Linked DNA regions of Homo sapiens. The protein of the gene in region 1 interacts with the protein of each later gene in a pairwise test. Each region holds a gene or a part of one and is shown in the gene's direction. Other genes may lie near its edges.

The links. The genes of interacting proteins can lie anywhere in the genome.
Region 2: the proteins of MEST (region 1) and RNF19B interact in binary tests that used the Homo sapiens proteins (3 or more experiments, as listed by UniProt).

Annotation. Positions count from the first base shown.
Region 1 is NC_000007.14:130,502,061-130,506,985, forward strand, and holds the end of MEST (mesoderm-specific transcript homolog protein), read left to right. Parts: intron 1-583; coding exon 584-660; intron 661-1,872; coding exon 1,873-1,936; intron 1,937-2,878; coding exon 2,879-2,996; 3' UTR 2,997-4,405; downstream 4,406-4,925. Other genes in the region: COPG2 (coatomer subunit gamma-2), read right to left, coding at 4,616-4,746.
Region 2 is NC_000001.11:32,947,766-32,954,809, reverse strand, and holds part of RNF19B (E3 ubiquitin-protein ligase RNF19B), read left to right. Parts: intron 1-3,000; exon of another isoform or gene 3,001-3,330; coding exon of another isoform or gene 3,331-3,516; exon of another isoform or gene 3,517-3,602; intron 3,603-5,035; coding exon 5,036-5,241; intron 5,242-6,443; coding exon of another isoform or gene 6,444-6,446; coding exon 6,447-6,588; intron 6,589-7,044. Other genes in the region: metallothionein-1E-like, read left to right, coding at 3,331-3,516.

The DNA of each region.
Region 1 (4,925 bases):
AAAATGAGGAGGCTAGCCAGGTCCTTTGGCACATGCCTGTACTCCCAGCTACTTGGGAGGCTGGGGTGGGAGGATCTCTTGAGGTCAGAAGTTATAGCTGTAGTGAGCTATGATTGCACCTGTGACTAGCCACTGCACTCCAGCCTAGGTAACATAGGGAGACCCTGTCTTTTAAAAAACAAACCAACAAATGAGGAAACCGAGTTGAAAGATCTGTGTTATATGTTTGAGTCAGAGAGGTAGGTAGTGGTGGAGCCTAAATTGGAACCTCAGACCTGGGCTTTTTAGTTACATAAAATCCAAACCAACTGTCAGCCTTCCTAGATCTCATTCCCTGCTTAATAAATACACAAACCCACTAATTCTTATATTGATAGTAGGCATAATCACTACTAGAGCTACATGGTGGTTAACTCTAGAGGTTAACAGAAATGGATAAATTAAGTGGGACATTTCCAGGAATGCTAAACTGCTTCTGGATTAAGAAATTGTATCTTGTGTTCCTTGTGGCTCGTTATGCCCTTGAATCCCTGTAACAGTAAAGGTTTCTTGTTCTGCACATGCTGACTTACCTGTCCTACAGTCTCTTACAGTACATCAATCAGAGGAAGAAGTTCAGAAGGCGCTGGGTGGGAGCTCTTGCCTCTGTAACTATCCCCAGTGAGTATTTTTGTATTATTGATAGGAAACTGAAGGACTATAGGGTTAAAGTAATCGCAACTCCTTTATACAATTAGGGTTACCAGATTTAGCAAATAAAAATATAAGATACCCAGTTAAATTTGAATTTTAGATAAACAACAAATGCTTTTTTAGTATTTAAGTATATGTTGTACAATATTTGGGACCTACTTACACCAAAAAAAAATCATTTTTCACCTGAAATTCAAATTTTCTGGGTATCCTTTATTTTACTGGCAACTGTACTCATGACATCTGGAACAGTGATGTGTGTGTGTAGAGTGAAGTATATAAAAAGCTGAGACATTACTGTAAAGGTAGTTGGTATTACTGATTTCTGTGGTGTGCATTGTCAGTGACTGCCACATTACATGCTGAATTGCTCGGACAGAAGGCTGTTTGGATTACTAATCAAGAGGCTATAGGTGGTTTGTGCTTATTTGTCTTTTCATTCTTACAGATTTAAAAAAAAATTATGGTGTTTCACACATAGTGATTAGTGCTCAGGAAATTATTGGTTGATTTCAAATGTCAAGGGTCTGTTATAACTGAAGAGAGACTTAAAGAATGATAGTATCCTGGACTTAGAGGATGTTGAAAGTTGGGCATATCCCATTTGGTCCAGGGTGCAGGAGAGCTGGATGAGGGACCAAATGGTTGTCTGTAGGAGGAGATGTGTCCAATGAATGAACTGGTACGTGCCTAGCAGTTTTTTAGAGGTTACCTAATAAAACAAGCTAGGTTTTGTATCACACAAAAAATTATTTATAGAAAATATTTTCTTGGGCTGGGTGAGGATGCTCACGTCTGTAATCCTAGCTTTTTGGGAGGCTGAGGTGGGAGGACTGGTTGAGCCCAGGAGTTTGGCACCACTCTGGGCAACATAGTGAGAAAAATTTTTCTCTACAGATAATTTAAAAGTTAGCCAAGTGTGGTGTTGCACACCTGTATGTAGTCTCAGCTACTGAGGACACTGAGGTGGGAGGATCGCTTGGGCCAACGAGTTTGAGGTTACAGTGAGCTATGACTGCACCACTGCACTCCAGCCTGAGCAAGGGAGAGAGAGACCTTGCCTATTATAATAAAAAAAGGAAGAAGAAAACATTTCTTTTCGGAGAGGAGTTAATTTTAGGGTGGGAGTAGAACAGATGTGAGAGCTGTTAAGTATTTCATTCCTTTTCTCTTTTCTAGTTCATTTTATCTATGGGCCATTGGATCCTGTAAATCCCTATCCAGAGTTTTTGGAGCTGTACAGGTGAGTCTCCCCGAGAGAAGTCTATGTTTTGTTAGTATCTCATCCTGACAGTGGTAAACAGAATTGCCTGTTGAGGGCTATTGGCTCTAGCCATTGTCTTTAACCTCGCTGGCTGTTCATCCAGGAAACAATAAAAAGATTGAGTTGAGGAATCTTATTCTAACATAATTGTAGTATCAAGACATTCAGTTATACGTTCTCTTGATTTATACATAGTCTGTTTTCACTGTCATGACTGCTACATATTCCTTGGTGTACAAAAAGCTCTCATGTGAGTCAAAGGTTGAAAGTGGATATACCTACAAAGTGTTTGTTTGTTTTAGTCTGATTGTAAAGCCAATTCATTGGTTTAGGCTGAGCAGATGGCAAGGAGAGATTGAGAAGAGCTCATTGTGGAAAAGTGCCTTCTCATTGGTTGCTATTCTCTCTAGGTACTTACTTGGAAGGTATCAGAATATGAAATCTTGATTATGTCACATAAGAATGTTCCATACCTTCCTGTGGCCTACTGGATACAAGCTAGTAGTAAACAGCTTGCATATAATTTTAAATAAAATACCCCCTCTCTCATCTCCTCCTGGGATTAAGGGAAGATCCTTGGTTATCTCTGCTTGGGCAGTGAGTTGCTGTGTGATCCACTTGTTTGATGCTTCATCCTTCTCTAAGGAGCTGAAAGTCATCTTGCTTTGACAATTGTTGCAAAAGTGTTATATTTTCAAGTTGTTGTTTGTTGGATTATGAACATTTAAAAACTAGTTTGTATAAATGGAATTGGCAAGTTTATCTGCCTAAGATACAATTTCAGAGTAGAAGGTGAATAAGCTCTTTGGTGGCTCCTTCCAGTGTGGTGTGTCCACAGGGTCATTTACTGGGGCTTCCCACTGGCTTACATCCCTCCCGCTCCAGCCTCAAGTTCACCTGCGTGCTGTTCTCTTCCACTAGGAAAACGCTGCCGCGGTCCACAGTGTCGATTCTGGATGACCACATTAGCCACTATCCACAGCTAGAGGATCCCATGGGCTTCTTGAATGCATATATGGGCTTCATCAACTCCTTCTGAGCTGGAAAGAGTAGCTTCCCTGTATTACCTCCCCTACTCCCTTATGTGTTGTGTATTCCACTTAGGAAGAAATGCCCAAAAGAGGTCCTGGCCATCAAACATAATTCTCTCACAAAGTCCACTTTACTCAAATTGGTGAACAGTGTATAGGAAGAAGCCAGCAGGAGCTCTGACTAAGGTTGACATAATAGTCCACCTCCCATTACTTTGATATCTGATCAAATGTATAGACTTGGCTTTGTTTTTTGTGCTATTAGGAAATTCTGATGAGCATTACTATTCACTGATGCAGAAAGACGTTCTTTTGCATAAAAGACTTTTTTTTAACACTTTGGACTTCTCTGAAATATTTAGAAGTGCTAATTTCTGGCCCACCCCCAACAGGAATTCTATAGTAAGGAGGAGGAGAAGGGGGGCTCCTTCCCTCTCCTCGAATGACGTTATGGGCACATGCCTTTTAAAAGTTCTTTAAGCAACACAGAGCTGAGTCCTCTTTGTCATACCTTTGGATTTAGTGTTTCATCAGCTGTTTTTAGTTATAAACATTTTGTTAAAATAGATATTGGTTTAAATGATACAGTATTTTAGGTATGATTTAAGACTATGATTTACCTATACATTATATATATTTTATAAAGATACTAAACCAGCATACCCTTACTCTGCCAGAGTAGTGAAGCTAATTAAACACATTTGGTTTCTGAATAAATTGAACTAAATCCAAACTATTTCCTAAAATCACAGGACATTAAGGACCAATAGCATCTGTGCCAGAGATGTACTGTTATTAGCTGGGAAGACCAATTCTAACAGCAAATAACAGTCTGAGACTCCTCATACCTCAGTGGTTAGAAGCATGTCTCTCTTGAGCTACAGTAGAGGGGAAGGGATTGTTGTGTAGTCAAGTCACCATGCTGAATGTACACTGATTCCTTTATGATGACTGCTTAACTCCCCACTGCCTGTCCCAGAGAGGCTTTCCAATGTAGCTCAGTAATTCCTGTTACTTTACAGACAGGAAAGTTCCAGAAACTTTAAGAACAAACTCTGAAAGACCTATGAGCAAATGGTGCTGAATACTTTTTTTTTAAAGCCACATTTCATTGTCTTAGTCAAAGCAGGATTATTAAGTGATTATTTAAAATTCGTTTTTTTAAATTAGCAACTTCAAGTATAACAACTTTGAAACTGGAATAAGTGTTTATTTTCTATTAATAAAAATGAATTGTGACAAAAGTGGACTCTGGCTTCCCCTCCCCCCTCCCCCCCACCCCTCTGGGATAAAAATTTTCCAGCATTGCCAGGAGCTTTCAGGTACACATTAAAGAATAAAATGAAGTTAAGCAGCTGGAGTATAGGATAGTATTTGATTTTCAAGATCACCCAAAGCTGCACTATCGTCCCAAAGCTGACCAAGTAGAATAAAAAGAAAAAAAAAAAAAAACAACCCATGCGCAAAGATAGACATTTGCTTGATCTGCTGGCTCAGGGCCAAATGTTTAATTTGCTTCTCCAAAGTCATTCATCTTCAAAAGTCTGATTCTGGGAAACTGATGCCACTAGCCTAAAAGCCCACTGACCATGTAGTGTGCATCAGTTTCCTCTTGTCCAGTAAGCATTTATCCAACAGAAGCTAAGATAACATCTACAGGTGTTCTCTCTTTACTTCTGACAGTCACCTGCATGGTCACTCCATCGGCTAAGGCCAGCCTGGACCTCACCAATAAATCATAGCCACCTCTGAATATACCTGAGAGAAAAAAGTAAGGAAAACCATATTAAGAACCCAAAACAAGCACTGGATAATGAAATTTATCATGCTATCCCTGCATCTCCTTTCTATTAGTTTAGTTTAGCTTTTCCAGAGACTTGTGGAAACTGAATCCTAAACAAACATAAATTCCAAATATATATATTTTTATATTCCCA
Region 2 (7,044 bases), on another chromosome or scaffold:
TGTGACAAGTACCTATACCTCCATTTGGTGGAATAGAAGCTAAGGTTTGGAGATTGTTTTTTTTTTTTTTTGAGATGGAATTCCTCTTTTGTTGCCCAGGCTGGAGTGCAGTGGTGTGGTCTTGGCTCACTGCAACCTCCGCCTCCCAGTTTCAAGCAATTCTCCTGCCTCAGCCTCCCGAGTAGCTGGATTACAGGCATGCGCCACCATGCCTGGCTAATTTTTGTATTTTTAGTTGAGACGGGATTTCACCATGTTGGCCAGGCTGGTCTTGAACTCCTGACCTCAGGTGATCCACCTGCCTCGGCCTCCCAGAGTGCTGGGATTACAGGCGTGAGTGACTGCACCAGGCCGGTTTGGAGATTTTAATAGCTTCATGTCATGCAGCATGAGTCAGAGGCAAGAGCTCAGACCAGGTACCCAAAAACAGGAATGCCAAATCTCGTGCCCTGAGTAATTCTGTGTCGTAGTAATAGATTGCTGTGGATTCATGAGTAATTTGGGGTTATTTTACTTCCTTGGCACCAAATTACACACTCAAAATTGACATTGTTGATCCTATCCAATGTTCTTCTTTTTCAAGAAAAAAAAAAAAGTGGGCTGGGCACGGTGGCTCACACTTGTAATCCCAGCACTTTGGGAGGCTGAGGCAGGAGGATCACTTGAAGGCCAGGAGTTCGAGACCAGCCTGGCCAACATGGTGAAACCCCATCTCTACTAAAAATACAAAAAATGTAGCTGGGCATGGTGGCGGGCGCCTGTAAGCCCAGCTACTTGGGAGGCTGAGGCAGGAGAATCGCTTGAACCCAGGAGGCAGAGGTTGCAGTAAGCCGAGAGCACGCCATTGCACTCCAGCCTGGGCAACAAGAGTGAAACTCCGTCTCAAAAAAAAAAAAAAAAAAAAAAAAGAAGTGGGGGCTGGGGGAATGTTAATAAACATTTACTTCTGCCATGTGAGGTAGGAATGGATGATGAAGTGTTCAAGGCTCCCTACTGGATGTCCACTTAATTTGTATCTTTAGAAGTTGACTTAGTGCTTTTCTGAGGTCATCCAGTAACTTTCCCATTTAATGCAAAATAACAAGCTAGTCACTGTCTTGAGGAGACACGTTGTTTATCTTTAGTAGTTATTTTGCAGCTAGGTGGGGTAAATTTGCCCAGAACTCCTACAGGATATGAATCATTTGCATTCATAGACTGACCTGTTCTCACTTTGTTCTTTCTGAAAAGAGTTTTAATACAGCCTGTATTATATAACATAGGGGATACATTGTCATTTATATTTTCAGCATCATTCTCAAGTCAATTTGCAGACTCTATGATAAACCTGAGAACTTGAGTTGCTATGATTAACATCTCATGTACATTCAAATAAACAAGCAAACTGTAGAATAAATCCCAGAAAATGTTATTAGCTTTTTGTACACGTTATTTGAGGTCTTTGAATATTGCGGGAGAGTATTGGAATAGAGGACAGAGTGCAGATGGCAACACGGAAACCTGCAATTACTGATGTTTTTAAAAATGTGTGTCATAGACCAAGCTTGGTGGCTCACGCCTGTAATCCCAATGCTTTGGGAGGCTAAGGCGGGAGGGTTGCTTGAAGACAGAAGTTCCAGACCAGCCTGGGCAACATAGCAAGACCAACCCTGTCTCTACAAAAAAAAAATAAAAAGAAAAAAGAAAAAGTTAGCTGGGCATGGTGGTATGCACTGGTACTTGGAGGCCTGAGGTGGGATCACTTGAGCCCAGGAGTTTCAGGTTGCAATGAGCTATCATCACACCACTGTCCAGAAGCTGGGCAACAGAGTGGGACCTTGTCTTCAAAAAAAAAAAAAAAAAAAAAATTGTGTGATTAACTTTCATAACTTTCCATTTATTTATTTATTATTTTTTTTAGACAGAATCTCACTCTGTCACCCAGGCTGGAGTGCAGTGGCGCAAACGTGGCTCACTGGAGCCTCAACCTCCCAGCCTCAAGCAGTCCTCCCACCTCAGCCTCCCAAGTAGCTGTGACTGCAGGCCTGTGTCACCATACCTGGCTGATTTTTTTTTTTTTTTGAGATGGAGTCTCACACTGTCACCCAGGCTGGAGTGACACCCATGGTGGCGCAATCTCTGCTCACTGCAACCTCCACCTCCCGGGTTCAAGCGATTCTCCTCCCTCAGCCTCCTGAGTAGCTGGGATTACAGGCGCCCGCCACCATGCCCAGCTAATTTTTTGTATTTTTAGTAGAGACAGCGTTTCACCATGTTGGCCAGGCTGGTCTCGAACTCCTGACCTTGTGACTTGCCTGCCTCAGTGTCCCAAAGTGCTGGGATTACAGGTGTGAGCCACCACGCCAGGCTGTTTTTTTTTTTTTTTTTTTTTTTTTTTTTTAAGAGAAAAGGTCTTGCTGTGTTGCCCAGGCTGGTCTAAAAATGCTGGCCTCAAGCGATCTTCCTGCCTCAGCCTCCCAAAGTGCTGAGATTACAGGCATGAGCCATCTCACCTGGCTAAAATGTTATTTTATACAAGTATTATATTTCTTGTTAGAGTAATCTGAGCGCTTAATTGACATATTTGGAATTAATCAGAAAGGCTAATAGTTATATAAATATATTGGATTGTTTGTGTGAGACTAATTCTTGGTAAATGAACATGAACTACAAGAAATGGTCGACATTAGTGCTGATAAATTCTGAATCTTTACATGAAGAATATGTGTCACAGCTGAGTGCAGTGGCTCACACCTGTAATCCCAACACTTTGAGAAGCCAAGACAGGCAAATCACCAGAGGTCAGGAGTTGAAGACCAGTCTTGCCAACATGGTGAAGCCCTGTCTCTACTAAAAAAAAAAAAAAAAAAAAGCCGGGCGTGGTGGCGGGCGCCTGTAATCCCAGCTACTCGGGAGGCTGAGGCAGGAGAATCACTTGAATTTGGGAGAAGATTGCAGTGAGCCGAGATCACGCCACTGCGCTCCATCCTGGGCGATATAGTGAGACTCTGTCTCAAAAAAAAAAAAAGAATATGTGTCAGAAGAGAGAAAGGGAGGTATGGCCTTAATGCTATTTTAATTTATAAGATAGAGGCCTGGTATTCTTGGATTCTGGAGCCTATCAAGACATTTCAAGGTATAGGTTTGAATTGAAAAAGTATGGAAAGATAAGATGAGCTTTCAAGAGGGATGCTGATCATAAGTCTTTAGGGTTTATTGTCTCTGTGACTATGGTCAGACCAGCTTCACTGTGGAACTGGAACTTAAGAATGAAAAAGGCAGCATGCTTTCCAACTGCCTGACTGCTTGTTGGCCTCACCGGTGGGAGCTCCAGCATCTCCTTTGCTCGAAATGGACCCCAACTGCTCCTGTGCCACTGGTGGCTCCTGCATGTGCGCCGGCTCCTGCAAGTGCAAAGAGTGCAAATGCACCTCCTGCAAGAAGAGCTGCTGCTCCTGCTGCCCCGTGGGCTGTGCCAAGTGTGCCCAGGGCTGCATCTGCAAAGGGGCGTTGGAGAAGTGCAACTGCTATGCCTGACGTGGGGACAGCTCTGCTCCCAGATGTAAATAGAGTAACCTGCACAAACCTGGATTTTTTAAAAAATACAACACTGAGCCATTTGCTTCATTTCTTTTTATATTAAATATGTTAATGACAATAAAACAATTTTTACTTGAAGAAAAAAAATGAAAAAGGCTGAGTGCAGTGGCTCACGCCTGTAATCCCAGCACTTTGGGAGGCCGAGGAGGGCGGATCATAAGGTCAAGAGATCGAGACCATCCTGGCCAACATGGTGAAACCCTATCTCTACAAAAATACAAAAATTAGCTGCGCATGGTGATGCATGCCTATAGTCCCAGCTACTAAGGAGGCTGAGGCAGGAGAATCGCTTGAACCCGGGAGGCGGAGGTTGCAGTGAGCCGAGTCGCGCCACTGCACTCCAGCCTGGCGACAGAGCGAGACTCCATCTCAAAAAAAAAAAAAAAAGAATGAAAAGGTAGCATGGTGGCTCATGCCTGTAATTCCAGCACTTTGGGAGGCTGAGGCAGGCTGATTGATTGAGCCCGGAAGTTTGCGACCAGCCTGGGCAATGGGGCGAAACCCCATCTCTATGCAAATTACAAAAATTAGCCAAGTGTGGTGGTGCGCACCTGTAGTCCCAGCTACTCTAGAGGCTGAGGCAAGAGGATTGCTTGAGCCTGGTATGCGGAGGTTGCAGTGAGCCACTGCATTCCACCCTGGGTGACAGTGAGACCCCATCTCAAAAAAAAAAAAGAAGGAATTAAAAAATAAACTTTAGTTTTTGCCATAGCTCTTTATTTCACTAATGTCCTCTTCCTTCGTATAAACAAATACTAATCTCTCTAAATATAGCAAACTATCAAAAGGAAATAGTTTTGTACCCTGTTATTTATGAAACTTATTATGACAAACTACTCCTAAAGCAGCTTCAGCTATGATTGAATAAATGCTGGAAATCCAGGATAAATAAGATACTCCACCTCCACTTTTTAAAGTAAATAAATGATTTGTGTTTTTGGAATCTCAAGAAATTTATAGCCAGGCATGGTGGCTCACGCCTGTAATCCCAGCACTTTGGGAGGCCGAGGCGGGTGGATCACCTGAGGTCAGGAGTTTGAGACCAGCCTGGCCAACATGGTGAAACCCCATCTCTACTAAAAATACAAAAAAAATTAGCCAGGCGTGGTGGCTTGCACCTGTAATCCCAGCTACTAGGGAGTCTGTGGCAGGAGAATTGCTTGAACCTGGGAGGTGGAGGTTGTAGTAAGCCGAGATTACACCACTGCACTCCACAATCCAGCCTGGGTGACAGAGCAAGACTGTCTCAAAAAAAAAAAGTTTACTTTCTCACATGGGATATATTTTACAGTTGGTCAAATGTGCTTGTGTGTGTATATGTGTGTATGTGTATTCTTTTCTCTGTATCATATGTGATAGTGGGGTAGTGCCAAACATTGTTAACTCTGATGAATAATGTCTCTTTTGGTTAGATCATTCTTACCTTACTGGTATCTCTTACTGTTTCCTTACCTAGTTATGCTGTTATTGCCTATGGCTGTGCCAGCTGCCCGAAGCTAACTTGTGAGAGGGAAGGTTGCCAGACTGAGTTCTGCTACCACTGCAAGCAGATATGGCATCCAAATCAGACATGCGATATGGCCCGTCAACAGAGGGCCCAGACTTTACGAGTTCGGACCAAACACACTTCAGGTCTCAGTTATGGGCAAGAATCTGGACCAGGTATAAGTTGGCATTATCTCATTGTCTCTTTATTTGGTATTTCATGATGTGAGCCCATAGCTGAAAGAAATTATCTTATTGTATAACCCAAGTACTCCAAAGGATCAGAGAGCAGAAAATATCATTTGATAATACTTTCAATATTATAATAAAGATAGCACTTCCCTCTCTGACCATTATAGGTTATCCAACTATATAAAATTGAAATGCAACAAAATTGAATTATGTAGTTCCTACTTTCTTAGTAATATGTCTCAGATTGGAGAGCAATTAGTTCATTTTGTTTTGCTAGGGGCTTTTTCAAAACTTTCATTGTGAACAGAAAGACATTTAATTAGTATTAAACCTGTGCTGTTTGCCTTCAAGCTGACTTAAGTGCCTCACTGCCTTTGGAAGTAGAGTACAGATTGAAGAAAAGGAAACAGTATTAGTATAGATTAATGATTAACCTTAAAAGGAGGAATGTCACACATTCAGCTCCAACCTTGGCGAGTCAGAGGAAACCTATTTTAAAATGTCAGTGGATTTATTGCTTTGTACTTTTATTTTGCTGATGTCATTTGGGAGAGGCTAGTAGGAAAGATTTTGCCATTCACTTTTTCCTGGCACAGCATAATTTCCTAAATTGTCATTTTATTAGGATAGTTCATAACTTGCTCTGAAAATTACCAAGTATATGGTAGATAGCATACCCAGTTGTTTTTAGGTTTTGAATTTGAAAGTATCATGGGAAGGGATTGTGGGCTATGTTAACAGCAAATCACAATGATACATGTTGAACCTGAAAAATAAATTTCCCAAACTAAAGTTTTTAAAAATGTAAAGCTAATTCCAGGCTGCAGGCTATTCTTTCTGTAGGATTCTTCTTTTAAATCTACCAGCCTATCGACTGGTAGAAATTTCATTTTTCTTGGAAACATCTTTCTCCCTAAGGAAATCTCCTTGCTAGAATGTGGTTCAAGTGCTGTGTAAGATGCCAGTTGTTGGGATAGGCAGCTCAATAAGAGACAGGATTCATTTTATGAAAATTCCTGAGGTCTAGACATAGCCAACCTTCCAGTAAAGTGGGTTGTACAATTTGGAGTGTTCAGTGAAGAGTTCTTGACTGCTGCCTCATTTCTTATATATACTCCTAGGAACAATTAAATCAAACTGGATTTAACTAGGGGTATTTTTTCTACCCATTCTTCCCCCACTCATAGCAGATGACATCAAGCCATGCCCACGATGCAGTGCATACATTATCAAGATGAATGATGGAAGCTGTAATCACATGACCTGTGCAGTGTGTGGCTGTGAATTCTGTTGGCTTTGTATGAAAGAGATCTCAGACTTGCATTACCTCAGGTAAGATGGGAAATGCATCCATTCCTTTCGTAGTCTCATTCTCTTACTGATTTAGGGAAAAGGATGTCAAAAAGACACATCCGTTCTCTCATTACAGGTTTAAGGAAGCTGTGAAAACTTCTTCTGACATGCTCCTCTAATCATGTTTTCACCAGCTACTATTCTGTTTCTACCTTTCTTTGCTTGCCATATTACAGGTAGTCTGGACTTGCTTTTTCCCTTTTGCTGTCTTGCCTCCATACTTGTTCATGTTCTTTCCTTTGCCTAGAATGCTTTCTGCCTACCTTCCAGTATCCTCCTTTTATCTCAACTTGTTCAGTTCTTATCTTTTAAGAGCCACTTAAATGCCTTTCATCCATGTTGCCTCTCCTTTTTCCGCCTCATTCTTTGACTTTCTTTTATCTTTTGTCATAAATATCGTCAGTACTTTACACTTCACGTACCTATCTTATCTTA